Linked DNA regions of Homo sapiens: all the other regions are linked to region 1. The links come from fine-mapping of genetic effects on gene expression. A gene starts in region 1. Each other region holds a variant in brackets. All regions are shown on one strand. Distances are from middle to middle.

Region 1 (8,050 bases):
CCTCCTGTTCACACCAGGCCCCTCTTCTGAGTCCTGGGAGGGAGGAACAGAGGGCGGCAGCAATGATCCGTCCACACAGAGAGTGGGCGGGGAGCAGGCCCACCCCGGGGCCAAGACTGTTGGAAGAGGAGTGGTGACATCGGCCAGGAGGAGCGTGTGGCCCCAGGCTCAAGTCCCCGGCATGGCCCAGCGTCCAGCAGGCCTCAGCTGCAGAAGTGCCATCTGCTCCCAGCAGGGTCTGTCCACACTCCTGGAACCCAGGGGAGGTAGGGGCACCACCGCGGGGCTTTCTGAGGGCAGTGCTGCCCTCCCTGCCCCAGCCGCTCTCCCCCAGGGCAGCTCGTGGGCATGTCCCTCTGCCATGGCCTTTCCTGGTAACACCACAGTGGGGCCAGGCAGGGCAGCGGAGTGGCAAAGTCAGAGTCCTCCTTTTCAGGCAGGCTTGCTCCTCTGTCTGCCCTTCACAGGTCAGATTGCGTGGGCAGTGAGTGGCACATGGTGAGGGCTCCTGGGGGGGCAGGGGTGGGAGAAGAGCTGGGGAGGAGGGCACTCAGGGAGCCATTGGCCCCCAATGTCCTGGGAAGCCTGGGGTCTGGATCCTGAGAGCCATGGGGAGCCTCAGAGCAGGGGTCAGCAATGCCTCCAGCAAAGGGCCGGAAAGAATCCAGCTCCGTCTGTAGCCTCCTGGTATGTGCCTGGACACACGAGCAGCCATGGACAATATGAGAAAGAGTGAGCATGGCTATGTCAATAAAACTTTATTTATGGATAGCAAAGTTGACTTTCATAGCATTCTCATATGTCACAAATATTAATGTTTTGATTTTTTTCCAACCATTTTTAGCTTGTGGGCCCCAGAAACACAGCAGTTGGCCTGACCGTGGCAGACATCATTAATCAATCCTGCACACTCTCCAGCTCAGCCCCGTCCCTGATCCCAGGGGGCTGCTCCACAGGACAGCAGGAGCCCCCAAGCCAGACTGGAGGTCCTGGGGGTAACCTGGGTGCTCAAGGCTCGCTCTGTGTGTTGCCACCTCCGTTTGCACCCAGACCCTCCTGTGACGTGGCTCAGCAAACCTCTTAAATGGGTCATTGGATGCTAAACTTGAACTTTCACAGGGCGGGGTTTCTTCAAACGGGACACACCAGAGTCCAGGCCAGGCTGGAATCCTGCTGCCGGTGCCTGACCCAGATCAGGGATTCCAAACACCCATGGGGCCCCTGGTCCCGCCCTGAAGCCAATTCCAGCTGCCCCCAGGAGTGTGAGGGGCCTGGGGGTGTCTTCCTGGGAGCTGCCAGGTGTGAGATTGACCCAAGAAATGGGACCACAGGAACCCAAAAAGCTACAGCTGGGTGGCCAGGTCCACCATCCACGCCCTCAGGTCCACCAGCCACGCCCTCAGGTCCAGTCTTCTAAAGGTCAAGGGTCTCTGACCAGGTGGAGCAGAGCACGTGACTGGGCAGCTCTTCTCTGCCTGGAACGCCCATCTTCTGTCTTGAGGCAGAAAAATCTATTTTAGAGGGTTTCCAGGCCTGGCTCCTCAGAGGTGCGGGAAGATGTTCAGAGCTGAGACTCTGGAGGGAACGGAGGGGCAGGGACATCCCAGCCTCATCCACAAAGGCCCCCTGCACGACGATCCTCCCTCCCGCTCTGCTCCTCTGCTCCCCGCTCCTTCCTCCTTCCTCCCCGCTCCCTCCTCCCCACTCCTCCTTCCTCCCCGCTCCCTCCTCCCCACTCCTTCCTCCCCGCTCCCTCCTCCCCGCTCCCTCCTCCCCACTCCTCCTTCCTCCCCGCTCCCTCCTCCCCACTCCTTCCTCCCCGCTCCCTCCTCCCCACTTCCTCCTCCCCAATGCTAGAAACAGGCCCCTCCGCACCTTGCCCTGGCTGCAGAACGCAGCTTAATTACATGGTCTGCGGGTTGGGGCCCTGAGCGAGGCTGGGGCTGGTTCTTGGCCAAGACGCCTCCCCAGCCGGCTCAGCCTCCATCAGAAGCGGCAGCTCTGATTGGCCACCGTGCACCGCGTGGAGCGCCGTTCCTCGCAGCGAGTTCATGAGGCATTTCACTGGGGGCCCGGGCACCCGCCTTGACATCAATTACGCCAAAATTAAGTGGCAGCGTCCACTGCGTGGGGCCCGAGCTGTGGGGCCTCTTCCGTCTCCCGGAGCCCAACCGCGGGCCCCTGCGCCCCGGCAGGCAGGATCTCACCGCAGGGGCGGCGGTGGGGAGGGGAGGTCAGGCCCGCTTCCCCGGAGCGGCCCGCAGCTCCCGGCCCAGGTTCCCAGGCTGCAGCGTGAGGGGCGCGCAGCGGGGCCGGGTGGGCTGGGGCCGGCGCGGAAAGCCCTCGCCCTGAAAGCCCAGGCCGGCCCCAGCCCACGGCGCTCGCGCCCACCGTGCCGCGCGGGCCACCGCCCACCCGGGGGCTGGTTAGAAACGCGGACTCTGCCCCTTCGCGCCGCCTCCGGGGCTCACGGGCGCCCGAGTCGGAAGCCCCGCCCTGGGGAGGCCGGTCTCCTCGCGAGGGCCTGGGCCGCTCTGGGCGCTCGGCCCGCGTGTCGGGGGCTCCCCGGGGCGCCCTGGGCTCCTGCTGCTGTTTCTTCCTGGCCGGCCTTGAGGTGCGGAGCCCCCGGGCTCTGCTGAGGGCCTCCCGGCCCCGTGGCCTCGGTGACCTCGGTTCAGGCGTCCGTGACCGTCTCGCCTGGTGGCTCCGCGCCGCTGACCTCGGCACGCCGCGGGCCTTCCTCCTCTTGCGGACCGGAGGGAGAGCCGGGCGCAGAGACCGAGGCACAGTCGCGCGGCGCGGCGTTCCGCGTGACCCTGCGGTTAAAACCCGCGCGCTGCAGCATCGCGGAAAACGGGATTCGCCTCATTTGAAACTTGAGGAAAATCTCTAAACACTTTCATTTTGATAGAAACCATTTCCGCCGCTGACGTGCGTCTACGCCCATCATTTCAGCTGACACGTTGCTGTAACGTCTCCTCCGTTTCATGCTCTTTCGAACCCTGTCAGCTGCGGGTAAGACTGTAGAAAAGAGAGGGGAGAACAGGGCCCAGCCGGTGGCGCCGGCGTCTTAGCAGCCGATTGCGCAGCTCCCGGGCGCGGCGGAGAGTCCGGGCTCGTGGGGAGCGCCGGCTCCAGAGCCCGCGGAGCAGCAGCCCAGACTCCCAAGACGGAGGGCACCGGGCGGGCGCACACACTAACCCACGCAGGGGACACTCAGGCTCTAACTCACGTGCACACACGCTCACATGTACACACGCACACACGCACCCGGACGTACACACACAGCTGTCGCCTACCACACACATTCATACTCCATTCACACTGCAGGATGTGCAAATGTGTGTGACAGAGAGAGGAGGGAGAGAGAGGGGGAGAGAGAGGGAGAGAGAGGGAGAGAGAGGGAGGGGGAGAGAGGGAGAGGGAGAGGGGGAGAGGGAGGGAGAGGGAGGGGGGAGAGAGGGAGAGGGAGAGAGAGAGGGAGAGGGAGAGAGAGGGAGAGAGAGGGAGAGAGAGGGAGAGAGGGAGAGAGAGAGGGAGAGAGAGAGAGGGAGAGAGAGAGAGAGAGAGAGAATGTGCCTCTCAGGAATGGTCAAATATCCTCCTGACACACCTGGTTGGCCCAATGCAGGGACAGAGAGGGGGATGACCTGATGGCTTTGCCTTCCACCCACCCAGCGCCTGCCCATCAGTACAGCAGGGCTGCCCTGCCCGCCTGCGACCCACCTTTCCCGACAGCCTGTGTGCTTTCTCCCCGAGTCTCCAGGACAGCCCACTAGTGGCATGGCGGTTCCCTGGGTGGGAGGAGCGGAACCCTTCAGGCCCCCTCAACACTCCCCCAAAACCTCCCTGGGGGCCCCCACTGGCTTCAGCGCCCTGCAAAAGGCTGACTAGGATCCATGTGCACACTCCGTGTGCCACTGCTGCCAGGGCCCCCAGCCCCAGGCTGCCTCCCTCCCTCTCTGTCAGGAGCTGGGTTGGCCTGGGAGGGTTGTGGTGCCGCTGACTGCTCCCGGGCAGGGGCCATCTCATCTCTGTTCTCACCGTGCAGGCAGCAGCAGGAAGGGAGGCAAAAGGAGGGAGTGGGGAGAAGGAGGGGGCGCTGACCACATGAAGAGACGCTTCTTCCCTGGTGCTCCATCTCCCTCCCCGTCCCCCAGTGGACACCCTGGACCAAGCTGAGCCCACAAGGGTGCCCACCCTGCATGCTTGTCCCCATCAGCTCCGTGTGGCCCCCTCAGGCAGTTTCCACAGTGAGCTCAGGTGCAGCAGGGGTCCCGAGCACAGAAATGACCAGGAGACCCTGGCCCTGCCCCTGGGGCCCTAGAAACAGCTCCTGCTCTTGAATTCCCCACCCCTGTGTGCTCAATTTCTCTGGGCCTCTGGGTGCTTTTGAGGTTCCTGGCATTTACCAAGGAGAAAGATGCAGGAGGGGAGGCTGCAGGGCTGTGGGGATGGTGAAGTCCAACCCAGCCACCCCCAGCAGGATGGTGTGTGGGGCCGGACACCTACCAAGATCTCTTCCCAGCTTTTCTGTGGGAAGGAGCCGGCCAGGGCCAGAACCCTGGCTGAGACATGAAGCTAAAAGTGCCTGAGGACTTGGTCCCAGGTCTCTGTCCTCCTCCCCAAATGCCTCCGGAGCCTTCATCTCTTCAGGCACCTCACTCACTTCCACCCAACCCCGCCTGCCCTGGGCGGACCCTCCCCCAGCTCTGCCCTCCCCCACACCCCAAACCCACCCTCCCCATTCTGTTAAAACAAAGCCCCTCTTAGCAGGGTATGTCACGTGGCGCTGCCGAATTATTCCATTAATTTATTATTCATGATGAAAAATTATTCTAATAACATTTCCATACTATTAATATTCCAAAGACGAGCCGTTGAGAGCCCCTTCCTGCGGCCTCCTCTTGGCGAGAGCCAACTCTATTTTTAACAAAGTGTATTGAAATTTAAATCTAATCACCCACAATATGCTACGTTTCACAAATACGCTCTCAAAGAGTCTGTGAGAGGAGCCAGGCCCGGTGGTCCCGGAGGAGGCAGGCGGGTGGGCCCCTGCCGTGGGCGTTGGAGGTGCCATTCTCGGCTGCCCCCAGCCCTGCAGATGGAATCTCTGTGCCACAGCCCCTTTCCTCACTGGGGGAGCCGGGCCAGGCGACCCCTCCTTGCTGCTTCTCTCCCTCCCTCCTTCCTTTTTTTCCTTGTCCCACCCCTCAGTCCATCCAGAGACTCTCAGAGTTTGGCTCTAGGCAGGGGGTATACGGGGGTCTCTAACGGGAGCTGACGTCTGAGGTCAGGCGTCCTCAGGAGAGGGTGGAGCCGCTCCCTGGCTGAGACAACCTTTTCTGACCACTCCCTCCTCCCTTTGGCTGCCTTCTCTATGTGGAGGGGTCTTTGGCCCCACCCCCAATGCACACTGCAGCCCAAGGTGGGCTGGAGTCCAGCTGCCCAGGGAGGGTCCTCATGGGCACCTTGGGGGACATCTTGTCTTGTTCCCTCTTCCGAGGTCGTGCCACATGCCTGCTGCACACAGACACCTCCGTCCATTGCTCAGTCATACGTGTACACACAGGCAGCCTCAATCATCCATCCGGCAGGGGGGGACCTCCTTCTGTCTGGGCTGGACATGGAAGAATGTCTGTGGGAACGGGAGGGTATGAACGTCACAGGAGACAAACAAGGTCTGCAGAAAATACTGAGGGAGCTGCCTTGATAGGAGGTGAAGGGGCAGGGGGAGGTGAAGGGCCAGATGTCTCCCAGGAGGGAAGGGAGGAAGAAGGACCAGGTGCCTTCCTGAGGGGAAAGACCAGGCACCTCCTTGGGATGGGAGACTTCTACAAGAGAAGAGAAGCAGCTCTTCCAGGTGGGTCTGAGGGAGGAAGGGATGGGGGTGAGAACTTGGGTTGGGGAGGACACTCTTGTCTCCATTAAACTGGAAGTAGGATGTGAGATATAGGGGCCAGTGAGCAGGAGGCCATGGAGGAGAGCAGAGCGGCTCATGGAGAGCCTGTCATCCATTCATCCATCCATTAATTCATTCACCCATTCATTCATTCATCTATCCTTCCATGCATCTGTCATCCATCCATCATCCATGATCCATCCATGCATTCACCCATCTATCCATCCACCCACTCATTCATTCATCTATTAATCCATTCACCCATTCTTTCATTCATCTATCCTTCCATGCATCTGTCATCCATCCATCATCCATGTTCCATCCATGCATTCACCCATCTATCCATCCACCCACTCATTCATTCATCTATTAATCCATTCACCCATTCTTTCATTCATCTATCCTTCCATGCATCTGTCATCCATCCATCATCCATGATCCATCCATGCATTCACCCATCTATCCATCCATCCACTCATTCATTCATCTATTAATCTATTCATCCATCATCCATTCATTTATCCATCCATCATCCATCCATCAATTCATCTATCTACTCAATTCATCCATTAATCTATTCATTCATTCATCCATCATGCATTCCTCCATCTACCCATCATCCATCCACCATCCATCATCCATCCATCTGTCCATTGCTCACTGCACCGGCTACCTGGCTTTCAGTAGGATGGGACCTTGAGGGTTCCAGTGTGTGTTGGGGTTTGGGGTAGATCTGCATTCCTAAGTAAGAGCCGGAAGAAGGGGCTGAGTGGAAGCCACATGAATTTGATCAGGGAGAAAAGGAAAGCAGGGAGGGGCTGACCTTAGACATGCTCAGAGCTGCTGTTTTGTGGGGGCAGCCAGACGTCCCCCTCTGTTAGGGAATGCACAGCCTCAGTCAGGGCACGGTCGCTCATGCCTGTAATCCCAGCACTCTGGGAGGCCAAGGCAGGTGGATCATGAAGTCAGGAGTTCGAGACCAGCCTGGCCAACATGGGGAAACCCTGTCTCTACTAAAAATACAAAAAATTAGCCGGGCATGGTGATGTGCGCCTGTAATCCCAGCTACTCAGGAGGCTGAGGCAGGAGAATCGCTGGAACCCAGGAGGCGGAGGTTGTAGTGAGCCGAGATCGCGCCACTGCACTCCAACTTGGGCGACAGAGCGAGACTCTGACTCAAAAAAAAAAAATTAAAAAAAAGGGAATGCACAGCCTCTGTGTAAAGTCCTCTCTGGTACCCACTGCACAGATGGGGAAACTGAGGCTAAAAAGAGGGTGACGCCCCCCCAAGGTGTGCAGCCAAGCAGCTCTGTCCGCATTCTCTAACCTGCCGTGGTACAGTGAGGGTGGGTGCTTGGAGAATTCATTCTCCCAGGCCTGGCCTTCAGAGGAAGAGGAGTTAGGAAACTCCCCCAGGGACCCCTGTGTGTGTATCAATGGTACCTCGGAACTGGGAGGACACAGGTGCGACAGCCCCATCCCCAGGGGAAGCCAGGGACCTTGAGGCTATGGATGGGATGCCCCTGGGCCCTGGGCATTGGGGATTTAGCCGGCCCCGCACTCCTCCTAAGCAGGACGTGGAGGGTGAGCGGCTCGAGCTGTGTCTGAATCCAGCCTATCGCCAGCCTCAGAGGCGGAGGCAGCACCTCACAGCCATGCATCTCCCCACGTGTGGGGGAGGGCCTGTCCCCTTCCCACCCCCATCCCCACCCCACTCGCCTCGTCGACGTTCCGTTGAGAGGTTTCTAATCCCTCCCCTGTGAACCCAGCGGCGGGCGGATGTGCGTCCAGGGAGTGGGCAAGGGTCCCAGCCTGGCTGCCCAGGGGCATCCTTGAACTCAGCAGCCTGCTGTGAGGGTCAGGGCTTGGCCGAACAACAGGTGGACAGTCCGAGGGGAACATGCCACCATCTGTGTCTGGGGAGTGTGGACCCCAAGCCAGGTACAGGGTTGTGACCTGGAGCAGATCTGGGCTCCATGGGCTTCCTGCATGCAGCCCGCCATTCCACCCCAGCCCCACCCTGGCCTCAGCTGTCCCTTAAGCAGGGGGGATGCTAATCCTGACCTTGGGCTTCCCTGGGGCAGAATTAGAGTGCAAGCCCCATCGAGGGGTCAGCTCGCAGGAATTTGGCAAGTGTCAGACCTCACG
Region 2 (8,050 bases), 930 kb before region 1:
TGGGAGTCCCAACTGGCCTGTTAGTACCACTTCCAGGCTCAAGCCTCAGCCCAGCTTAGAACAGGGTTGCCCGGCACCCAGGAGCCCCCCTCCCCCAACTGCCAGAAGCCAGGGCACATGCACCCAGTGCCACCCACAGGGACGCAGTGACCAGAGCCAACCGGAGATTTCCTGGTGGGGCTCAGGGGAACAAGCAGTGTCTCCTGAGCTGTGTGTACCCCCAGCCCCTCCACCCAAGTAAGCCCCCTCCCTAGAGGAGGCCCACAGCTGCTCACCATGGGCCTTTCAGGGTCTTGCCCTCCCTCACTCCCGCCAGCAGGCCACGCACATGATCCTGGGGTCCTTGGGCAGGGTGTGCACTGCCGCACCAGGTCCAACACCAGCCAACCGCTTCCCTGGACAGGCTGCCTGGAGGACTGCAGAGGGGCAGGCCAGGCGGAGGCTTTTGAAGTTGGCTCCTCCAAGCTGAGGGAGGGAGCAGGAGAGGGAAGGAAAGGCCACGCAATCCCAGCCCTGCCCCCTCCCTCTCTCCACTCCCTATCACTTCAATTAACCTGGCCCTGGAGCTGGGCAGCCACCTCTCCCAGGGGATCCAGGGCTACTGTGGGTCTTGGATTAACTTGTCCGTCCCAGAGATACTGTTCTGTCAAGGAGGGGTGAGGCGCCGCGTGGGCTGGGGCAGTGCAGGGCCCAGCTGGTGGGGGAGGGGAGCCAGGTGAGACTGGGGCCGACTCTGTGGCCAGCAAGTGCTGCCTCTCCCAGGGATCTGGCTGATGGGCAGAGCTGGTGGGAGGCCCTCATCCCCTCCCCAGCTGCCGGACCTGCAGCCTGACATCCAGGGGGCCCTGCCCCAGCAGGTCCCAAGACATGGGGCTTCCCGGGCCCCCGCTGCTGGCCCGGCCTCACTCCTCCTGGGCTGAGGGGTCTCTGGCTGAAGAGGTAAGTCTGAGGCTGTTACTCTGCTGCCTGCCGTAAAGATACCCAGGAGCAGGGTGGGCTCCCCCGATCCTTGGCTGCTGTCGCTTCTGCTGTGGTCTGGGGCACTCTGGTTAGCAGCCTGACAGGCAGTGGTGAAGAGGCACCTCAGAACACGAGCAACCTCTGAGGCACAACTCATCTTTGCAGGCTGAAAAAATTTCAGTTGAAGACAAGTTAAGGTAGTTTCCCAGGGGGAAAAGTCAGTGACTCACAATAGTCAAGAACAGACCACACAGGTGACAGGAGTCCCCTAGGATTGTAACACTGCATCTTTACGTTTTTGCCTTTTCCGTGTTTGGATGTGATTAAATGCTGTGACAGGCTGTGCAGGTCTGCAGCCCAGGAGCCCCAGGCTCTGGCACCCGGGCACACAGCCTGGGGGTGCAGGAGGCCGTGCCTGCCAGCCTTGTGTAAATGCACTCTTTAATGTTTGCAAGACGACATCACCTAACGAGGTTTTTCTCAGAATGTATCCGCACTGTTAAGTGGCGCACAACTGTGGTTTGGCCAACTCAAAGCATTTGAGAAAACCCCACACAGGCAAGAAAGAGGAGACACTCACACATGGACAATGTAAGCGCTCCGGAACTTTCCAAGGGCCCTGCAGGAAGTATCCCCTGAACATGGCCTGAAACATTCTTTTCTGTGTGACCCCTCAATGCCCACCCAGCACTGGCCATTTCAGCTCTGAGGTCAGAGAAGGGCTTCCTTCCTACGCCTCGGTTTCCACATCTGTACAGGGCCAGGCTGGCTCACAAACTTCCTGGGCCTCGGTTTCCACATCTGTACAGGGCCGGGCTGGCTCACAAACTTCCTGGGCCTCGGTTTCCACACCTGTACAGGGCCGGGCTGGCTCACAAACTTCCTGGGCCTCGGTTTCCACATCTGTACAGGGCCGGGCTGACTTCACAAACTCCAAAAAGCTGCAGGACTCTCTTCATCTTCAGAATAAATGTTGAGGGCTCCCTCATGCTTCCGTCTCTCCATGAGGGATCAAAGGAAACTCCTCCACAAGTTCCAGTGAAAACACTCATGAAGCTCCTGCAGCTGCTCCTCAGGACGGGGCGAGAGGAAGGACTTCCACATTCCAACGATTTGAGCTGGACCCCAGGTTGCCTGCCCAGCAGAGACCAACCAGCAGTTCCTGACCCCATACAGGGGTGGCAGGTCCCTTGCCCGGGATTGACCATGTCCTCAAGGTCCCCAGAACCACAGGGAAGGGGGACCCACACCCACATTCTGGTCTACCAGGACCGCCCCACGTGCAGGCAGGGATCTCCCACCCCAGCCATTCTCACTCGTCAGGAGCAGGGCAGGCAGACCACAAGGCCTAGCACAGGCCCCCATGTGCAGGTGGGCAGAGCTGTGGGTCAGTGACTGACCACCACCACAGGCCCTGCCATCGGTACCACAAGACAGGCCGGGACCCTCCAGGGCTCCCCTCTCACAAGGAACATCCAGGGACAGCTGCTCTCCAGCAGCCTCCTCAGCCCACATGACAGCGCCCTCCTCCCCGCCCGCTGGCCTCAACGACTGTCCACCCACACCCTCTGGGCCAGCCATGACCTCCAGCCAGATGTCTCTAGCCCCGGCCTACACAAGAACCAGCTGGCTCCCAACTGAATGCACACACATGATCCCAGGCCTGAGGACGTCCTTTATCCTTACACAGCTAAGGCTGAAGAGAAGCCAAGTCTCTCGGGTGATCAACGTTCAACCTAGAGATGAGAACCATCACTGTTCAACCTGGAGATGAGAACCATTACAAGGGCTTTAGGGTTAAACTGCGAATGATAAATTAGCAAAGATAAACTCACGGCCGGGTGCGGTGGCTCACGCCTGTAATCCCAGCACTTTGGGAAGCTGAGGCAGATGGATCACCTGAGGTCAGGAGTTTGGCAGCGGGCGCCTGTAGTCCCAGCTACTCGGGAGGCTGAGACAGGAGAATTGCTTGAACCCAGGAGGCAGAGGTTGCAGTGAGCCGAGATCGTGCCACTGCACTCCAGCCTGGGCGACAGAGCGAGACTGTCTCAAAAATAAAAAAATGAACTCACCTCCAAAAGAAAGAACGCCTCTTACTGGTGACACTGTCACTCAGCACATGCCTGAGGGGCCCGGGAGGCTGTGTGGAGAGGCCCTGCGCAGAGCTGGGTTCTCCTGTTTGCACTCAGACCCCAGGGAGGCCCCAGCTGTCCCCTGACCAAGACCCTTGCAGGCGGCTGCCAGGCTCCTGCGAGCACCTGCGTCCTGCATGCAGCTTGGTCCCCACTGTCTCCAGCTGTCCTCACAGGGCTTTTGGCCAGAACATCTGCACCCCTACCACCTTCTCCACAGTCTTGGGGAACCCGGGCACCTCCACAGTGCCTCCTCTGTGAGACACCGGCTGTCTGCAAGAGGCTTCTGTCCAAGCAAGGGCGATCACAGCCACCCCAGGACGGCATGGGACAGGCCAGGACAGGCCAGACTGGGGCAGCAGAAGCAGGAGCCAGAGAAGGGCCCCAGAGAAAACCAGCAGGCTGCCTGTTCTGACACGAGACATAAAAACTTTTAATGAAGGAGGACACAGCTCAGAGCCCTTCCACATGCGGCCCAACCCTGCCCCACGGAGACCGGCCATGGCAACCGCTCAATCAGAAGGTGTTCTTGATGCGGCCGGCCACCAGCCTAAGGATGTCCCCGATCTTCTTCTGCCAGTTGGCGATGTCCTTGGACACGGCGCACCACAGCTCCCCATGCCGAGGCTCTGCACTCTCACAGCGCTTCCTCACCTCCTCCTGCTGCTCCTGGGGGGACCACAGGGCACGTCAGGCAGGGGTCCTCCCACGCTACTCCCCGGACCTCGCCTGCTTCTCGCCTGGCCCCTGCAGACCTGGCCCTGGCAGCACCAACCCCAACTGGCGGGCCAGAGGGCACAGGCCCTGCACCGGAAGGCAAGGCTCTTTCAGGTGTGTTCCTCAAAGGAGCCCCACCTCCTGAGGAGCATGGACCCCACCAGCCTCAGCCCACAGATGAGGAACTGAGCCAGGCTCCCCATGTCTGTGCCTCACACAAGTGCTCACGTCTGCCTTCTCCAAACAAGGAGTTAGGGTTCACGTGGGCTGGCAACACTTTCCAGGGAGGACCAGGACAGCCTGACTGCCTCCAGCACAGCTCAGACAACGCTTGGCTCTAGCGGGGCGGGTGGGAGCAGAGGGGCTGCTGCCCAGGCTGTCCTAGAAAGCCACACTCAGGCTCAGGCCCAAGAAAAAGGCCAACTCCATTCCCATTCCTAAAGTGAGCCCAGGCTCCAGCCAGCAAATAACTCGTTAAAATACTCCAGCAGACAGGCCACCCTAACGGACAGGGTGCCTCAATTCCAGGGTGTGGAGCTGTGAGGCTATAACCAGAAAACGGATGTGGAGGCAGAGACTGCCTTGTGGGGAGGTGTCGAGGATTC[T/C]GTGCCCCACACACCCGGTCCATCCTCCCGACCCCGGGCAGAGTCACGCTGGCCGTGGCCACCTCCTAGAGCCCCCAGGGCTGGCGGAACTCCCCGCCACAGTCCCAGAAGGCACTGAGCGGCGGTCTGTCGAGGGGCCTCACCTCAGTGCCATGCTGCAGCTCAAACTTGTAGAAGAAGGCCCAGGCATCCCCCAGGTCCGAGTCAATCTTCACAGTGCGGTGGAACCACTCCCTGGCCTTGGTGATCTTCCGCTGACTCCAAAACAGCCTGTTCCAGCAGAAGGACGTGAACCCAGAGTGAGTGGCTGCAGGACGGTATTCTGGGGCAGGGGAACGGCTTCAGGGCCATCAGCTTCATCCCTGACCCGCAGCCCTGGTGCTCCCCTCAAGAAGGCCTGAGGATCAGGGCCTCGGCTGATCCAGAAATAATTACCCCAGATCATTAACTTGAAGCTGCCCTTCACGGGTCTAACCAAATTGGTTTTTTTTTGTTGTTTTTTTTTTTTTTTTTTTGAGAAGGAGTCTCGCTCTGTCGCCCAGGCTGGAGTGCAGTGGCGCGATCTCGACTCACTGCAAGCTCTGCCTCCCAGGTTCAAGCGATTCTCCTGCCTCAGCCTCCTGAGTAGCTGGGATTACAGGCATGCGCCACCACACCCGGCTAATTTTTGTATTTTTAGTAGAGATGGGGTTTCACTGTGTTGGTCAGGGTGGTCTCAAACTCCTGACCTCATGATCCACCTGCCTCAGCCTCCCAGTGCTGGGATTATAGGCATGAGCCACCGCACCTGTCCCAAACTGTTTCTTAAAAAATTCACACGCAGGGAAAGATCTTCCAACTCCGTAAAATTAGGGTCAGATACAAGGAGATGAAACTAAACCTGACACAAAATTAAACTGCAACTTTGATGAGGGAAAGTTATACAGTTTCAGCTCCTCACTGAGACACCTGCTGGATCATCCTGCCCCACCCGGCCTCCAGCAGCAACCCCAGTGAACACTGAGAAGATGGGCTCCAGGCAGCACAAGGGCCTGGGCCTGCAGCCCACAGCCCTCAGGCCACTGGATTCACACCGCCGTGCCTGCCAGACACATGCACACCTGAAAAACCGGGCCCGAAGAGGTCCATGCTATGAGAGGCCAGGTAAGGGTGTGCATGGCACCCCCACCCGCTGCTGGAGAAGGGATGGCGGGCGCTGGCTGCTGAGCATGCTGGCAGGCCCGGGACTCTGCGTTGCTGCCACCCTCTCCTCAGGGTCACCTCCCCCTGGAGCCAGAGGCACCGTAGTCAAGAGACAACACGAGGAGCCTCCACTCCGGGCAGCTGTTCGGGTTCGTCTCAGTTGCCAAACGGAATAATTTCACACTCTGATAACCTGATTGTTTTTTAAGCCTTGTGGTATTCTTAATTGCCCGGTGTTAGATAAACTGTGATTTAAAGAGCACAAACCCAGATAGCAGACACACAAAACACTGGCTTGGGAATAGCAAGGAGTGACTTATTTACTTTAGCAAAGCCTTTTATAAGGTTTTATGGCTGCACTATCAGAGTGTCACCCAGAAGTCACTCTGGGAGGTGAACGCACAGGGCAGGACCAAGGTAGCACCAGGCAGACACAAGCCTCCCTGTGGGGAGCCTCTCTCATCTGTCGGGGGCCTGCGGGCAGGGGAGAGGAGGTGCCCCTACAGGCAAGCCTGTGGGGGCGGCACCCAGACCTCTGGAGACCAAGCACCACTGCCACCCAGTGCTGGGGAGAAGGGATGGAGAGAATCAAAAGCCAGCACTAGGAAGGCTGTTGTCTCTGCATGACCCATGGCGGGGCAGGTGGAGGGGAAGCCGGACACAGGAGAGCTCCTGGGGCCAGACACGCCACCTCTGCCAGGTGAGCCCACGTCCTGAGCTGCAGCCTCAGGAACCCAGGGTTCTTCCAAGAACTCCCTTCACCCCACATGGTCACTTCCCAGCCTCCTGACCCACACTCAGGCCCAGCTCCTTCCCAGACTGTCATCCTCTTTCTAGAAGGAAACAGGGACCCTGGGGGTCGGGGATGGCCCTGAGCTCCCTGCTGTGCCCCACACCTGGCGGGTCTTTGCCCACATGTGCCTAGAGTCTGCATGCTCTGCCCCATGGCTACCCGCTGCTGCCTGCAAGGTTCCAGAGTCACGTCCCCAGTGAGTCTCTGACCCAGCGGCCAGCGCACCAGTGTGAATCACACGCGTCCCCAGTGAGTCTCTGACCCGGCGGCCAGCACACCAGTGTGAATCACATGTGTCCCCAGTGAGTCTCTGACCCGGCGGCCAGCGCACCAGTGTGAATCACATGCGTCCCCAGTGAGTCTCTGACCCGGCGACCAGAGCACCAGTGTGAATCACATGCGTCCCCGGTGAGTCTCTGACCTGGCGGCCAGCGCACCAGTGTGAATCACACGCGTCCCCAGTGAGTCTGTGACCCGGCGGCCAGCGCACCAGTGTGAATCACATGCGTCCCCAGTGAGTCTCTGACCACGGCACCCTCAGGTGTGTCTGCCAGGAGAGGCGCCTGCCCCAGACCACAGCAGGAGCGACGGCAGCCGAGGATCGGGGAAGCCCACCCTGCTGCCGGGCATCTTTACAATGACCAGGAAGAGGCAGACAGACTCTGGAAAAAGAGCCCATTAGGACCCCGAGGTTCAGCAATCCTGTGGGGGCCCCACTCACTTGGCCACGGCCAGGAGCACATGGGGGTCATGCTCACACTTCTTCAGGGCATCCACGCTCTTGGTCCTCCTCTGGGGCCTTGCCTCGAGGAAGATGGCCTCAGACCACAGGATACCTATAATTCAGAAACAAAGAACAAAGATTTGCACTCCAGCCTCTGGTTCCGGAAAGGTGCCCAGCCTACAGATTCTAACCCGGGACGTCCTCAGACCACGACAGGGGCCTCCCACACACGGCTCGCAGAACTTGTGCAAGGAGAACCACAAAGGATGAGCACTCTGGCCCACCCAAAACCATGGCAGCCCTGAGGGCACAGACTGGACACCCTGCAGAGTCTCACTCTGTCATTCAGGGTGGAGTGCAATGGCGCAATCTCAGCTCACTGCAACCTCCCACTCCCGGGCTCAAGCAATTCTCCTGCCTCAGCCTCCCGAGTAGCTGGGATTACAGGCGCCCGCCACCATGCCCAGCTCATTTTTGTATTTTAGTAGAGACGGGGTTTCACCATGTTGGCCAGGCTGGTCTCAAGCAATGGACTCCTGGACTCAAGCAATCCTCCCGCCTCAGTCTCTCAAAGTGCTGAGATTACAGGCATGAGCCACCACACCTGGCCAATTTCTTTTAAATTTTAAAAGAAAAAGAAATGATAACACTTCAGAAATGAAATCAAATTCTCCCATTTTGAGGCCAAGAATTTCATTAAGTTGTCTTAACGGCCGAGTATAGCTGAAACTTTTGACTGAAATGATTCACACAAACTACACATTTTAATAAAGTCCGTCTGAAGCCTGAGCCCCCACTCCCTCAGGAAGTGCCAGCCCTGCGGAGTCTGGGAAGCCAGGAAGCACCCCCTTACCGGAGTCAAGGCACCCCCTTACCGGAGTCAGGGCACCCCCTTACCGGAGTCGGGGCACCCCCTTACCGGAGTTGGGGCACTCCT
Region 3 (8,050 bases), 44 kb after region 1:
CCACCCCCAGGGCCTTCCCTTGAGTGACGGATCCCTGGCAGCCTGTGTCAGGGCCACTGCGAAGGCTTCAGAGGGCAACTCTCTGATCTTTCTTGTGATGAAGGCCCCCACCCATCTGGTGGGGCTGTGGCTTGGGCTGGGATCCTTCCGCCTTCCGGGCACCCTGCCCTGGGCCAGGGCTTCTTCCTGCTCAAGGAAGCCCTTCTCCTGCAGCTCAGGCCCTCTTTCTTGCCAGAGCCCCGAGGCAGGAGGCTGGGAGAAGGGAAGGGGGCGTGTCATGCACAGGAAGTACCCCCACTTCACCTTTTCCTGGGTCGGGGACAAAGGGCCAGGCACTGCTGGGGGAAGCAGGACTTCCACAGAGCCCCAGGGCCAGCCAGGAGGGGACTGGAAGGTTCTGAAACAGCTTCCCAGGCAGCCTGAGGAGGGAGGCCACAAACAGCTGGGAGGAGGGACCAGGACAGGATCTGTCTCCCTCACTGAACAGGGATGCTCAGCCGCAGATGGTGACTCACCCTGTGAGCTCTGGGCGCCGGAGCAAGGCCAGCTGGCTGATAATTGGCCAGGACCGACTTCGCTGTTTTAATATCCCGAGTGCCACTCTCCCGCCAGCCTCAGGGAACCATTTCTGTCAGGGCTTTTCTAAGCTTTGACTCCCACTTTCTGCCAAACACCATCGGAAAACAGCCCGATTGTCCCACCTGCTGAGGACCACAGCCATTGTGAGCTTGCGTGACCCCAACAAGCCCTCTTAGGGCCAGGACCCCTCCGAGGACGAGGAGCTGAGTGGGGCTTAGAGCCTGGCCTTCTCCTCTTCCCACACGGGTGGGGGCTCGCCCCACACTCCAACAAGGGAGCCCCCGGCCAGGCAGACGATGGGGTCACATGGGGGCAAGAGATGGAATCAAAGATATCACAAACCAACCGGAGCCGCAGGCAGAACAAAGCAGAGCCAAGGGGGCCTCCGCGCCCCTGCTGACCCTCTCGGGGGCTGCACGCACAGCCGGGGTCCACCTGACCCACTGAGTTAGCCCCAACTGCCGAGGGAGCCCCAGAAGTTGGCTGAGTCTGCAGATGAGGGAAGAGGCCAAGTGCCTTCCCCACGTGGTAGCTGCACGGGGGTGCCCAGGCAGGGCACCGAAGGTGGAGGAATGACCACAGGCCCTCGCGATCAGCCCTCGCCCCTTGGCTGCAGGCTATGCTGTGGCCGTTGTCAAGGACATTTGGAAGCCGGGCGCAGTGGCTCACACCTATAATCCCAGCACTGTGGGAGATTGAGGTGGGCAGATCACTTGAGGCCAAGAGTTCCAGAGCAGCCTGGCCAACATGGTGAAAACCCGTCTCTACTAGAAATACAAAAAAACTAGCTGGGCATGGTGGTGCACACCTGTAATCCCAGCTACTGGGGAGGCTAAGGCACGAGAATTACTCAAACCGGGAGACGGAGGTTGAGGTGAGCGAAGATCATACCACTGCACTCCAGGCTGGATGACAGACAGAGATTCCATCTCAAAAAACAAAACAAAACAAAACAAAACAAAAGGACATTTGGAGCCAGCGCTCACAGTGGCCTGGCTGCCAATCAGTGTGCCCTTAAAAGCTGAATCCAGAACCAGGTAAGGGTGAAATGCAAGGACCCCAAAAAGGGAAAGACACAGACGGTGCAGCCTGGGACATGTGCTTGTTCCTGCGTGTGTCTACTGTGTCTGTTCGCTGGTGCTAAGGAGCTGGGGTTGATCCTGGAGGAGGCACCTCCTACCTCCTCCCATCTGGAGGAGGCACCTCCTACCTCCTCCCATCTGGAGGAGGCTTCTCCTGCAGTGGTGCCCAGCCCACCTGAGCCACAGCTGAAGGGCCTTCGCCAGCCCCTGTGGCCTCCCAAAGGGGAAAGCGGGCTCCTTAATGGGCGAGGAGCTGGATGACCAGCAGGCAGCAGCACACCCTCCCATGCCTCCCGCGCTCTGTGGACAGCCACCTCTGTGCGCTCTGGAGCCTGGGGCTGGTCAAGCCTACAGGGCCCCACCACCTGGGAAAGGGGGAAGTCACCTGTGGCCCTGAACTGGGGGGCCTCAAGCCATCTGCCAACAGAGGAAGTCAAAGGCCACCAACAGGCCATGCTGACCACAGCCTGGTCACTGCTGGCGCAGAAGAGGGGCTTGGAGTCCGAGGACTTCACCATGAGCACCGTAGGGAGGCAATGCCAGACCCCTGTTGGTGTGGTGTGTTTGAGGATGCACACAGAGCACAGGTGTGTACACACTCCCATGCAGGCACTCACAGAGCTGGTGCACACAGGGCAATCCACACACACGTGTACACACAGAGCAGTCGGACCTCTCTCTTGAAGCTGTATCCAAATATGCTTCCCTCTCACCCACAGATCCCCCAAGGCAGGGGCTTGGGGGTGTTTCCTGAACCACAAGCCGCTCAGGAGGGAGAACAGTTAACTTTGTTTCCCAGCCCTGTGTCTCAGCTGGATCCACAGACTTTAATAGAGTTTTACAAGAGCTTTGCCCTGATCTGTGCTGGCAACCAGAATTCAAACATCACCCATTAACGCCTCGTGAAAATGTCCTCAGTGTGAGTGACTGACAGGGTTTGGGGTGCGGCATTGCCTCTTCTCTTCTTGCATTTTTTTCTCTTCTCACCAGATGGATTTATTGAATTGGAAAGAAAGTCACAGAAATATTTTGTCTTATATTGGTAGTTAAGATATGAGATTAGCCAGGAGAGAGGGGGAAGAAACTTCAAAAAATGAAGGACAAGAATGTTGGGGCCAAGGCATGCCCCCTTCAGAGAGAACAAAGGAGACGCTGCAGCTCCAGGGGCTGCTGAGCTGCTGCAGGACCTTGAGTCCTGCTTAGACCAGGAGAACTGGACACTGCTTCTGGCAGCAGCTGAACAGGAGGGAAAGGTACCTTACTCTTTCCCTGTGTACAAAGGAGTGACTGAGTAAACAAATGAGTGAGTGAGTGTGTGTAAATAAATTAATGAATGTGTGTGGATGAGTGAGTGAACAAGTGAGTGCATGTGTGTGAAGGAATGAGTGAGCAAACAAGTGAGTGTGTGAATGAATGAGTGACTAAAGGAATGAGTGGGTGAACAAATGAGT[GAGTA/A]AACAAATGAGTGTGTGTGAATGAATGATTGAATTAGCGAGTGAACAAATGAGTGTGTGAATGAGTGAATGAAGGAATGAGTGAGTGAACAAATGAGTGTGTGAATGATTGAGTGAAGGAATGAGTGAACAAATGAGTGTGTGAATGAATGAGTGAAGAAAGGAGTGAACAAATGAGTGTGTGAATGAATGAGTGAAGGAATGAGTGAACAAATGATTGCATGAATGAATGACTGATCAAATGAATGTGTGAATGAATGTGAGTGAACGAGTGAATGAAGCAATGAGTGAGTGAACAACTGTGTGTATGAATCAGTGTGTCCATGAATGAGTGAATGTGTGTGAGTGAATGAGTGAAAGAAATGAATGAGTGAACAAGAGTGAGTGAACAAATAAGTGTGTGCATGAATCAGTAAGTGTGTGCATGAATGAGTGAATGTGAATGAGTGAGTAAACAAATGATTGTGTGTGAGTGTACAAATGAGTGTGTGTGAATGGGTGAGTGAACAAATGAGTGTGTGTGAATGAGTGAGTGAATGAAGGAATGAGTGACTGAACAAATGCGTGAGTGTATGTGAATAAGTGAATGAATGAGTGAACAAATGAGTGTGTGTGAATGAATGAATGAAAAAAGGAGTGAACAAATGAGTGCATGTGTGAATGAGTGAATAAGGAAATGAGTGAACAAATGAGTATGTGTGAATGAATGAGTGAATGAAGGAATGAATAAGTGAACAAATAAGTATGTGAATGAATGAGTGAACAAATGAGTGTGTAAATGATTGAGTGAAGGAATGAGTGAACAAATGAGTGTGTGTGAATGAGTGAATGAGTGAATGAGCGAGTGAATGAATGAGTGAATGAGCGAGTGAATGAGCGAGCGAATGAGTGAGTGACTGCATGAGTGAGAACCTGGGAGTGCAGGCGGGGCCGAGCCGCCGCGGTCACAGTAGCACTGGGGGCGGTGGGCGGGAGACCCCTCCTTAGAGGCCCACGTGCTGGACCCCTCAGCTCTGCCAAAGATGAAATGCCCCCAGACGGGCCAAGGGCTACCCCCAGTGGTTGCAGTAGTGATGGCGCCTCCCCATCCCTGTGGCTGTCGCCTGTCTGCTGCTTTCCCCAGAAGACTTGGGGGCCTGGAGACCCCAAAGTGTGGCGTCCACTGCCAGCCCCGCCAGCCCCGCCAGCCCCGCCAGCCCCGCCAGCCCTCTGCTGCCCTCTGCTGGCCAACTCGATCCACAGCGGCTCCTGGCGGTCGAGGGGAGGGGGACCAAAAGGGACCACAGGGGCGAATTGGGACGATGTCAGCTCCTGCCAGCATCACGGAGCCGGTTGCCACAGTGACGGGCTGCTGTGCGGGCCCTCTGCAAAGCAGGGAGTGCAGCCGTCCTCATTCCACCAGAGCCAAATTCCTCACGCTCTGCCTCCCAGCGAAACCCATGTGACCACGGGCCCAGGGAAGGGGGAAGGGGTGTGGGAGCGGCCGGGCCACTCTGTGCCCCGGGCACCCTGGGCATCGCAAGCCTGGCTCTGCCTGGGACGCCCTCAGCTGGCCCCTCATTCCTCCTTCCAGGTCAGGCCTCCAAATGCTTTCGCAGCCCTGTCCCCGCCAGTCAGACCCGGAGGATGCCAGGGGTCGCCAGTGGCTGCCCTGCCCAGCTCAGAGAGGAGACGATGTACTCAGCCAGAGTGGAGGCCGGGGGCCTGACAGAGGCAGGCGGCACCAGCCAGCCCCCCAGCCCTGTCCTGAGGCTGCTGAGCATGACACCCACTGGGGAGGTGGGCAGCTGACCCAGGGCCTGGCAGGGAGCCGGCTGTAGCACTGCCTGAATCAGGACCCAAGCTCCAGCTGCTCCTGCTCCAAGCTGCCCCTGGCAGCTCTGCCAGCATGCAGGGCACAGCCATGGAGAGGGGACACCCACATGCACTGGGCCAGCTGCAGGCCTGCAGGGCCACCGGGCATCTCACCCATCCTGCCACCCAGCGAGGACAAGGGGCAGAGGAGGAAGCATGGCATGAGGGAGGGTGGAGGGGGAAGAGGGGAGGGAGACCCCATGGCCTGGGCCCCAGCCCACCCCCAGGCCCAGAGCTGCTGTCCACGTGGGAGGACTGGGGCCCCAGGAGGGCGGAGGAAGACCCAGCTCCCGTGGGAGGCTGCCAGGGACTCCCCTGCAGGTTAGGAGCCTCCAGATGTTGCTGCAACATCGATCTTTCCCATTTCTCGAGTTATTACTTTATGTAAACAAACACGAGAGTTGCTGGTTCTAAATAAAGTTGTTTGTCTATGTAAATTAATATATCATATTCTCTCCTGAAATAGAATTATTTGTCTCTGGAGGAATCACGTTAAAGACTGACATAGGGTATAACTGTATCATTTACATATGCAGATATGTCTAATTATTCAACTTGCAATTAAAGGCTTGTGTGTCAGCAAATGAGACTAATTAGACACATTTATCTATGATAATCAGCTTTTTACAAACAAAATAGATCCCCCTTGGTTGATCAGGGAAAGCTGCTGGACCGGGGCCCTTCTCCCGTCGGGCACCTCTCACCAGCCTCACTCCACACCCCCCAGCTACACCCCAGCCCTGGTTTGTGGGGGACAGGGAGAGCCCAGGCTTCCCGCCCTTCAGAGGTGGATCTGAGGCAGCAGTCACGAGGCCTCTCAGTCCCCACTGGGGTTGGGCCCCAGCTGCCCAGCCCTCCACTGCCCTGGCCCCTCCGGCTGCCCCGGCCCCTCTGGTGTGCTCCTGGAACTGCCCCCTATTAACTCCACACACAAACCCTGGTGGGGCGTGCCCAGAGGGCTTGAGGAGCTACTACCTTGCTTTCAAAGCTCTGTGCCTTTGAGACCGTGACTGTGTGGTTCACACCCCCATCTTCAAGGCTGGACTCTCCTGGCCCATGGACCCCGCTGGTTCTCCCCTTCCTGGGCACCCCAACTCCACAGCCCTGTGCCCCTTGACCAGGCTGTTTCTGGCCAGGGTGGGCTGACATGCCGGGGACTTGATGGCCCCGGAGCAGTCTCCAGGCAGGTCCTGGGTGAGAAAGCCCTGGGCAGCTGAGGACCTGGTGAGGCTGAGCCCAGAAGCCTGGCCGTGGCCTGCCTGATGGCCGCCCTGGTCACTGGGCATCTCACCTCCCACTCACCTGCTGCTGTGCTCTCAGAGTCACCTCCAAAATAAACAACTTTCCCTCCTTAAGTAGGATGAACAGGGCCCCCAAATATGTCCACCCATAACCACAGAATGTGGCCTTATTTGGAATAAGGTCTTTGCAGATGTAATTAGGGTAAGGATCATGGATTAGAGTGGGCCTCAAATCCCATGAAGGGTGCCCTCATAAGAGATGGAGAAGCTGAGACAGGTAGATTTGGAGAAAAACGCCACGGAAAACAGAGGCAGAGATTGGAGTGATGCGGCTGCAAGCCGGGGACACCAAGGAAGGCCTGGAGCCACCAGAAGCTGGAAGGGACCAGGAAGAAACCACACCCCCTCCCAGAGCCTCCACAGGAGCCAGCCCTGCCCAGAGCTTGCTTTCAGATGTCCAGCTCCAGAACGGAGATGGAATGAATCCTCGTTACTTAAAGCCACCCAGTTTGAAGTAACTCGCCGCCACGCTGGGACACCTCCCATTCCTGCTTCGGGATCTACTTCTGGGGAAGCCCAACCTTAACCCGTCATATTTTTCTTTAAGTTAAATAAACGAATTGATTTAAATACCTGTTTTAGCCTTTGACCTAAGCAAAAATATCTGTGAAATCATGGGCTTGATATACAAATTTAATTTTTCCAAATACACACTCAAAATAAGTACTCGTAAAATGTAAATGGTCATCGAAGCCTCCGCCACCTAATCTCCCTCTGGCTGCAGCCGCGCCATCCTCCGGAAGGAGGAATCACCATCACCGTAACCATCACAGACCAGCGCATATAACAATGCACTTTCAGATATCATTTCTAGATATTTATAGAACCTGTGGATTCCAGAGCAGTGTGCACACTGGTGTGTGTCTTTGTGTGTGCATTCACTGTGTCTGTGTATGCCTGGGCTTAAGGAAGAAGAGCGTGTCTGTGGAAGATGAAGAGGGCAGGAAGCCTCTTCACAAAGGCTCTCAGTTGCTTGGCGATGACTGAACCGAGAGCTGAGTGAAAGGGGTGGGCGTCAGCGGAGTACTTCTGTTGTGTGCACCTGAGCACGGGCTCACAGAGCTCCTGGAGGCCCCGCAACCCGACTGTTCAGTCGAACAGAGGACATACCGGGAGGTCCACCACTGTGTCCACCGCTGTATTTCCAGTGCCTGAAGGACCGACCGCCCCATGGGAGGGCTGAGAACTTGTCTGTGATGAGGTCACTAACAAACAAGTGAGCTGGACCCCTGGGGAGGGTCAAAGAAGGAGCTCTGACAAGGGGCAGGGGATGAGGTGAGCCTGGCGCTGAGAACAGGGACAAGCAGATGTAGGGCCCCTGACCCTCAGACCTGATAAGGAGGGCCCAGTCCCTTCCCACCTCCGTGTCCCGGATGACTCCATTGGCCACACCCACCCAGAGGCCAGAGACAGATTGCTGGGACATCCATGGAGGTCAGCCTCCTGGGGCCCAGAGCGGGGCTGGAGGGGTAGGGGAGGCTGGGCTCCCGGGGTCTTGCTACGGCCTCTGTTCCGGGCTCTGGGCTCATCTGTGCCGGGGCGTGAGTCACTGGTGCATGGGCTCGGCTCTCATGTCCTGGACTCTGTGAGCAGCAAAGCAAGGGGCTCTGCCAGGGCTTCCCCGCAGGGAGGCAGCAGACCCCTCACGCTGGTGGGCACTTTGGACCTTGGCTTTGCTTTCAAGTCCTGCCCTTTTTTAGCAAGTCGTTAGTATTTTAAGTGCCTTTCAAGAGGCTGAGCCTAATTAATTAGCCGTTTCTGAAAAAACAATTAGGGTTTC
Region 4 (8,050 bases), 320 kb before region 1:
GCCAAGGTCAAAGTGGGCCAAGGGTGCAGGTGCTTAGCCTGGTTCCCTCTCCCGGGCCCCGAGGTTCTGTGGGTCGGGCAGATTGGAGACAGGACTCGTGTAAGGGCTCTGCTGGGGTGAAGGATGGAGACAGAGAAAATCAAGATCCTTTCACAAGTTAATTCTACGTCTGCTGAGCCCCAGCCCCCGACACATCACCCTGAGGAGGTGCTAGGCTTCTCTGGGCCCCCTGTGCCCCATCCACATGTTGCAGAGTAAATCTGGCCCCTTGGACCTGGGGTCCGAGATGGACGCCTGGCTGCCCCTCCTGGACTGCGGGTGACAGCTGGCGAGACACTGCGGGGCTTGGGTGCGGGGAGATGGAGTGGGGCTGAGCTGCATTTTTCCAGCCACCCCACATCCCACAGAAGGGGAGTCATGGTCAGTGCCTTGAGCTGGAAAGACGGGCAATGCTTCCGGCCCACACCAACCAAGAAAACCACCAGGGGCTCATTCATCCTCTCAAAGAGGCTAAGAAAACGGACGAGGGCCCAGAAAGAGCTGGGTCGGCAGCGTAGCCTCTGCTGGTGCCAGCCCCCAGTGCTGCCACTGCCTCCCCCGCCCCTGCTGCTGGCCCTGAGGCTGGGAGTGGCTGTGGGGATGAGCACTGTGCCCCCCACAATGGGCACCCTTGGCTGTGATTTGGGCGGAACCTCGGTGCTGTCCCAGGTGGACGCGAGGCTTCCCGACGGCTTCCGCGTGGCAGGGCCCCACGCCCTTGCTGGGAGCGACGCCGGAACCCGCCCCGTGCCTCACGGCCCCTCGTGCTCGCTGCCCCAGCCCGGCCCGCTCCACGTTCTCGTCTCAGCCTCTCTCTTTCTCTCTCTCCCTCCCACCCTCCACTCCACCCATCTGGACACCCGCTGCCCCCAAGTGCTTTAATCCCTGTTACTGCCCTTCTCGGGCCCCTCTCTCGTCTGCCCTCTCTTTGGGGATGAGGTGCTGGCCCTGAAGGCGAACTCCAGGTGAGGACACGCGGGAGCCTCCGGGCTCTCCGGTAAGCTCTGTGGCTCCCCACCCCTCCCCCGTCTCTTCCCCATGTGTCCGGGGGGTCCTTGCCTGTGCCTCCCACGCCCTCCCCCACGGGCGAGCACCCACCCGCCCCGGCCCTCCTCCTGGGACGCCTGTGGTGGGGGACGTGGGGCTGCTGGGTCTGGGGCTTCTGGAAGGTGCCTGGGGTGCGGTGGGAGTGAGGAGCAGTCTCTGCCCTTGAAGACCCTCCCCGCCCATCCTGGGGTGCTCACCTGGCAGGTCACGGGGTGGCATCTCTGTTCCCTGGCCTGGGGCAGCCGCAGCCTGTCCAGTGTAGGGTCGTGCTTAGGAAGTTGTTCCGCAATCATTGCCTGCCACGTCCCTGGGCTGCTGGGTGAGGGGCCTGCTCTGCGAAGCTTGATGGGGAGCTCGGCTCCTGGCGCCCCTCTGCTGCCTGACCTGGGCTCTGTGAGTCTGGTGGGACCTGTGCCTCCGCCTGCCCTTTGGAGGTGGAGCCCGCACCCCGCATGGCAGGACCCCGCTGGTGTCAGCTGGTCTTGGCAGGTGGATGGTGTGGACACAGGGACCCTCACTCACTGCTGAGACCCCCACCCCCATCCTGGCTCAGAACACAGGCACGTGGTGGCAGGCGACCCGGCTGGCGGGGGCTCGGTTCCCGTAGGGACCACTGGGGCTGTGCTGGAGTCAGAGGAAGCGTCTACGTTGGGGTCGGGTGGGGAGCCAGGCAGGCTGCGGGGCTCGGGCCGTGCTGCCCCAGGGGGGTCCCGGGGGGTCTCTTTGGCCACGGCGGTTCTGACTTGTGCTGTCTTGTCCGACACCCCATCTCACTGCCTCCTGCCCCCGTGCTGGAGGAGGAGCCCCCAACACCGGCTGCCCCCTCATGCCTGTGCGGGCTCCCCCGTGCCTGTTCGGGCTCCCCCTCCTCTTCTCAAGCACACGTGTCCGCGTGTTTTTGGTGCATGTCTGTCCTGTCGGGTCTCGGTCAGTGTCTGTGGGTCTCGAGCTCACTGTGGGCCTGTCCGCCTGTCCGACCTCGGGTCACAGGGCCTTCTCACGCAGTGTGGAGCTCCCTGTGGCTGATGGGGCAGGAAGGAAGCCCAGTGCCAGCTGCGGACCCCAGGGGGAGGTGCAGCTGCACGGGTCCCCCACAAAGCTTTGGGGGTCTTGGGGGGCTGTGCCTGCAGCGCCTCCCTGCCAGCTCTCCCCGGCTCTCAGACCACGTTGCCCCATACAGGAGCTGCCAGCCACATGTGGCTGTTAAAATAACATGGATTATAACGGGCACGGTTAGAGATTCACTCTCGAGTCTCAGGTGCCTGGTGGCGACAGCCGGAGCTTCAGTGTGGCTACAGGACGATCCCATTGCAGAATCGGGCGGCAGGGCCGGCCCGGGAGGGGCCTCTTGGTCAAGGCGATCATGCTGGGGTCAAAACAGGAGACCTTGGGAGGTTTGGGGAAGCGGGACCCTGCCTCCTTCATGCTCTTTCCCTGGGGTGGGGAAGGTCTCCTGGGGCCCTCCAGGCAGGGGCTCTGTGCTTGGGCCTGGGTGGTGCTGGTGGGAGTCTGAGGTCTTTGCCTGCCAGGAAGGCCTGGGTGTCATCGTAGCTGGGGTGGTCACAGCGGGAGAGACTCTGAGCAGCCAGAACCTCAAGCCAGGCGCAGGGAGCCGGCTCCCTCCTGCCTCGTCCCACCGTCGCGTTCGTGGTTAACCAGCAAACAGAGTCCAGCCTTTGCACTACATCCCTTCGTGCCTGGGGACCCCAAAGTCGCTTGTGTACTAAAAAGCCGGACCGGCACGGGGGCTGGGGTGGAAGCCGGCCACCCGCCCTTGGAGTCTTGCAGGCTGGTGGGGCTTGGGGAAGGGTCCAGAGCCCTCAGCCTACCCGGGCGGCTGAGTGCTGCCGTGACTGGAGCTAGCCGTGTCTGTGACGCCGCTCGGAGAGCTGCCTGCGGGTGCGTGCAGGGACATCGGTGTCTAAACACACGTGTGCGCAGGAAGACGGGAGGCTGGGTGCTTTCTTCCTAGAGCCTGTGTGTTCTGAGTGGATGCCGTCGCCACGCTGGGGTTCCTGGGGCACCGAGTTTGAGAAGTGCTGTCTCAGGAAGCAGTGGCAAGGAGGTTGGGGGTGGCTGGGGTGGGGAAAAGGAAGAGTTCTTGAGTTCTTGGTGATTGGTTTCATTTTTTGCTTAATCATTTGCACATTGTGATGCAGAGCTAAATCGCCAGGGTTTTTGGGGAGATTCTTGGGAAAACGTTCCGTGTTTTCTGAGCCTTTTCTAAGGAACGCCCCGGCGGGGAGCTGCGCTCCTGAAGGGCTTCACAATGAGGGGATCCACTGAGCCCCAACGTGACTGTCCTCAGGGGAGCCCTTGAACCCCCAGATAGCCATGCCTGCAGTGGCAGCCACGCCTCCTGGGTAAACCGAGACCCACCTCCAACTGGGGGACTGGCTGGCATGGCCAAACGTCGCCGATTGGTTTGCAAAGCGGGACAACTGCACGTTTTCCTCTCTCAAATGTGTGTGCTTCACACCCACGCCCTTTCCCGGGGTCACGTCCTTCCCAAGCAGGGCTTCTGCGGCGTCTGAGGCCACATGTATTATTGTTTTGTCAGCATGAATACTGCAAAAAATAATACATCTTTTAAGACATGAACCCAAACTGTGGCTTTGGAAGGAAAAGGTATTTTTGGAGGAAAAAAAAAACAGGGATTTTTTTCCTTCAGAAATAGGGAAGTGTTTTCTTCTCCGGACGGTGGAGACGATGGTGCACCTTCCTCGCTGGCCTTGCTTGGGCGCAAGCTCTGCCGCTGGGGACTGCACACAACACCCTGGGTGGTTGCAGTGCCTCAGTTTCCCTGCTCCCGGCCGTGTGCTGTTGCCGGCGCCCAGGACTAACTGTGCTCTCCTCATTTCCAGTAAAGGCAGCCCGTGCAGAGGGCCCCTGTGTGGATGCTGCCCCGGACGCTCTAGGTACCGCGGAACACGCCGCACGGACTGACGGCTGCTGCACGGCTCCTCTGCCCCTCCCTGCTTACTAGAGGTTCTGGAGGAGCCAGGGGGAGGCTGGCGCCCCAACCCCAATTCTGACCCACCGCCCTGGCGGTGCGGGCTCAGCTCCCTCTATTCTAGCCGACAGCTGCGTGCAGGGCGGAGCTGGGGGAAGGTGCTTCTTCTTGCTCCCCACGCCAGGCGATGTCCTGCGCACAGCCAGAGGGGCCAGCCAGGGGCTCTGAACCCAGCAAGGCGTCCGTGCCTCCTGGGGTCCCCGACTGCTCTTCAGGGAGCGTTTCCCCTGGGGCTGTCACTCTAGCACCTCTGCTGCGTACCTGAGGATGACTGAGCCTTCCTGGCTGCCTCGACCGCGGGAGGCAGCTCCGTCTGTGTGTGCCGGGCTCCTCAGGGTCCTGATGCATCAGAAGCCCCAGAAAGCCAGAGGCCCGCGGCTCCCTCTCCCAACAACAGGCCTGGTTTAGGGCAGGTGGAAATAGGACGGGGGAGGAGCCGCCCCCTTTGCACCGTGGGCTCCTGGCCTGCACCGTGACCCGCACCTCCCCTGTCCCCGCGTCCCCTGTCTGCTGTTGGGTGTGTGCAGGCCTGCGCTGGGGGCCCCTCCCTCCTGGCCAGCACAGCCCAGCAAGGTGGAGGTGGCTGTGTCGTGCTCCTGTGGGGCTCTCCTTGGCATGTGCATGCCGCCGGTGGTGCTGGCCTTGGAGGGCT[G/T]GTGGGGCTGCATGCTGCCTATCTGCATCCGTGCATGCTTCGGACCCTGCTCCATGGGGGGCCCGCGACTCCATGCCACCCTCTCCCTGTGACTTTGCTGCTTGTGTGCTTCTGGGGGCGTTGGTGCTTGCGGGGAGACTGTTGGCAGCTCCAGAGAGGGAGACGGGCGTGTGGGCTGCCTGGGGCATGGCCTGCTGGGGCGCTAGCAGCTGTCCTGCGTGTCCGGAGCATCTATTCAGGGTGCTTCTGGCCGCAGGCTGGTCCCTCAGGGCAGGGGCTGAGGTCAGGCTGCTTGGGGACCAGAGGGGTTTGAAAGTGGGGGTGGGAGCCCAGGCCAGAGAACAACCCAGGGCAGGCCCTGTCCTGCTGCGAGCAGCCCCCACGGGAGGCCCCTTCATCCTCACGCTTCCTGGGCGTCGTTGGTCCGGACACCAGCTGGGCAGGGGTCTGGATGCTCCTCAGCCTCCTGTTTCCTGCGGGCACCGCACATCTGAATTTCACCATTGGGAGGGAGGGTGGCAGGCCGGGTGGGGATGGCGCGCTCTCAGGTGCTTCTTGAGCCTGCCCCGGCCCCGTAAGCCCCAAGCGTAGGTGCCACGGACGCCCCTCGCACACAGAGGGCAGCTCTGGCCGAGGGCTCCTCCCAGGTGGGTGGCGGCAGCTTTTCGCGTGCGCTTGTTCTTGGCTTGTGGCCGAGGGAGGGCCTGCGAGACCACGCGTGCTCCTGGCAGCTGAGGCAGGCTGGCGGGGTCGGGTGTCTGCAGCATGGAGCCTCACCAGCTGTGCTTGGAGGGTGCAGAGTTTGGGTCATGGTGGAGGTCCAGGGGAGGGAAGGACATGTCCAGGTCGCGCCACCCTCCTCTTCCTGGCAGAGCCTCCCTCGCAGATCTGAGGTGGGAGCGGAGCCCGAGACCCGGGACAGCAGGGCCGCGCCGAGGCCAGGGCAGGCTCCTTCCCGCCGGCTCTGTCTGGGGCAGTACACGTGGGCTGCGTCCCGGCGGCCCCTGGGGCTGTGCTGGGCATCGGGTCCAGCAGGGTGTGTCTGCCGCTGGCGGGGCTGTGGCTCCTTGTCGTGGTCAGCGGGGGGTCCCCCCTGAAAAATGGGAAGCAGACGTCGGGGCTGGGTCTTCTCTCCTGGGGCCTGTGGAATCCACGCCACTCCCTTCCTGCAACTCCCTGCGGACTGTGGGGCCTGACCCTTCCTGGCCCGCACGTCTGTGTGGCCGCCTGGGTATTTGACCCGTTCCCCTCCGGGGCCGCAGGTGGGAATCTGATGCCCATTCCTCAAGCTGTGCCTTTCCCACTGCAAGCCCTCAGCACCGGGCTCTGCCCAGAGACCAGCCAAGGGCAGCCCCGAAGCTACAGTTGGGCCGACCGGCTCTGTCCTCCACCCGGTGCTTTGCCAGCTGCCGTGAGAAAGGAGGTGGCTGCTTCTCTCTCTGGTGACTGGACCTGCCTCGGGTGGAAACGCAGAGAGAGGAATTGAGTCTTCCAGTGACTCCCACTTGCCCTGAGGCCTGCCTGAGCGGGGTCAGGAGGGGCCTATTCTTGCCTTTGAAATGGCTCGTGCGGTGGAGAAAGAGAGAACATTCCAGGAGTCCCGCTGAGCCTGTGCCCATGTGCTCCCCTGGCCCCCGTCCGGTTCTCCCCGACCACCTGTGCTTTTGTTGTTGGGATGGGGACCAGAGGCCGTTGGGACAGAGGCACCCACAGCACCAGGACTCTGAGCACCCCTGGCCCCCATGGGCACGGTGTGTTGGCCTCAGGCAGTGCAGGGGTGTGGACTCAGGACTGGGGTCCTGAGCGAGCCTGTACCATCGGCTCCTGACGTCCCCAAGCACGCGACGCCTCGGGACTCGGGGGATCTCGGCCACTCCGTCTCTGCTTCCCCGAGCGGGCACAACACCCAGGGGCTTCTTTCTTTCTCTCAGAGACGCCTGAGTGGGGACAGATGGTCTGCTGAGTGGGCACAGATGGTCTGGGCGGTCACCTGCTGCCTGGGGGATGGGGTGGGGAGGGGCAGCCAAGCGATCCGCGTGTCCAGGCCAGGCAGACGGGCGCGGTGGGCTCTCATGTCTGTGGCTGGTTATCTCTGTGCCGTCTGGTGGGCGTGTCTCTCTGGCTGTGGGTCTGGAGTCGGGGCTGATGGTGGCTGCTGACCGGGGCCTCAGTCCCTCGCTGTTGGCTGGGGAGCCGCCGTGGGATCAGGGAGCCCGTGAGGCACTGGGCTTCCTCTCTGAAGTGTGTCAGGGATCTGCGGGGCCTCCCCACCCGAAGGCTTGTTTCAGGCTCCAGCAACAGTGCTCTGGGCCCTGCCCAGAACCACCCTGAGAAGTTCCGTGGCTGCTAAGCATGGCTGGGCATGAGCGGGTCCCCAGTTCGTGAGAGCCCCACTGTCCTCAAGGGAGCCAGGGGGTTCTGATGCTTTCCAGACCTCAGGAGGCCACATCTGCCTGGCGTCTCCCAACCACCAACCACAGTGAACCCTCCCCTCCCCTCACTGTCGCCCGGCGGACGCTGGAGTTGAAGAACTCGGGTGCAAACCCATCTCCACGGTCACCAAAAAACTCGGGGGCAAGGCAGGCCCAAGGACCCCCCGAGAGTATGGAGCTGGAGACCCAGCCAGACACAGCTGCAAATCCTGCTTCACGCCTCGCAGGCCGAGGGGGCCGGGCCACAGCGCTGTGGCTTTGGAGGCTGCCTCCCCCTGCCCTGGGGCAGGACTTGGATAGTGAGGCCCAGCTGGCGGAGGAGCCCCGTTATCCATTCCTTCCTTCCAGAAGCCGGAAGGAGCAGTTCTCTGACACGGACCTGGTGGGAGGGGAGCCTGACAGGGGAGGCCTGAGCCCTCCTGAAGCCCATCCCACCAGGCAGGCCCCCGGGGTGGGTGGAAAGGCCGGAGTGTGGCTGAACAAGGGTCCACCGCAGACTTGGCCCCCAATGTCCTTGTTGTCCCCTGGCCCCTCGACTCTGGGGCAGAAGGAGAGGGACAGGCCGTGGGAGGGGAGGAGGGAGGCTGCTTCCTGGGAGCAGTTACGGGTGTGAAAAGGCCACAGGGGAAACCACGGGCGGGGCCGGGGCAGACAGAGGTGCCCGAGGAAGAGCCACAGCCCCGGTGTTTGGGATGCCCGTTGCCCTGAGTGTCACTGGGTGAGGGGCTGGCAGGACAGTGTGAGGAAGGCTCCGGCACCTCGTGGTGGTAGCGGAAAGTGATTTAAGAGTCCACAGACATCAACTCTCCCCACATGGCCAACCTCTGGCCACGCCTGAGCCAGCCGGGGGAGCTTGCTGCCCACCCA

What was found.
Region 2: its variant is fine-mapped to the expression of HAR1A in prefrontal cortex (GTEx, PIP 0.91).
Region 3: its variant is fine-mapped to the expression of HAR1A in whole blood (INTERVAL, PIP above 0.99).
Region 4: its variant is fine-mapped to the expression of HAR1A in cerebellum (GTEx, PIP 0.96).

What each region holds. Positions count from the first base shown.
Region 1 is chr20:63,097,080-63,105,129 of GRCh38, reverse strand. It overlaps HAR1A (highly accelerated region 1A), which reads right to left and starts at 3,838. Exons shown (of 2, transcript NR_003244.2): 1 at 1,876-3,838; 2 at 744-1,575. It overlaps HAR1B (highly accelerated region 1B), which reads left to right and starts at 2,811. Exons shown (of 3, transcript NR_152601.1): 1 at 2,811-3,015. RefSeq lists a silencer at 2,373-2,762.
Region 2 is chr20:64,028,552-64,036,601 of GRCh38, reverse strand. It overlaps PRPF6 (pre-mRNA processing factor 6), which reads right to left. Exons shown (of 21, transcript NM_012469.4): 18 at 8,033-8,050; 19 at 7,111-7,225; 20 at 4,558-4,684; 21 at 3,502-3,761. The coding sequence ends at 3,609. C20orf204 (chromosome 20 open reading frame 204) reads right to left here and starts at 420. Exons shown (of 4, transcript NM_001387010.1): 1 at 276-420. The coding sequence starts at 278. RefSeq lists enhancers at 1-77, 1-140, 1,028-1,257. The variant T/C (reference allele first, on the strand shown) is at 4,415.
Region 3 is chr20:63,052,883-63,060,932 of GRCh38, reverse strand. LINC01056 (long intergenic non-protein coding RNA 1056) reads right to left here. Exons shown (of 6, transcript NR_033369.1): 5 at 7,667-8,028; 6 at 7,070-7,421. Among named protein-coding and RNA genes, the nearest start is that of LINC01056, 19 kb to the right of the region's middle. RefSeq lists enhancers at 1-488, 489-1,331 and a silencer at 4,291-4,491. The variant GAGTA/A (reference allele first, on the strand shown) is at 3,113.
Region 4 is chr20:63,415,573-63,423,622 of GRCh38, reverse strand. KCNQ2 (potassium voltage-gated channel subfamily Q member 2) reads left to right here. Exons shown (of 17, transcript NM_172107.4): 12 at 3,951-4,004. Among named protein-coding and RNA genes, the nearest start is that of KCNQ2-AS1, 29 kb to the left of the region's middle. RefSeq lists an enhancer at 5,420-6,067. The variant G/T (reference allele first, on the strand shown) is at 4,752.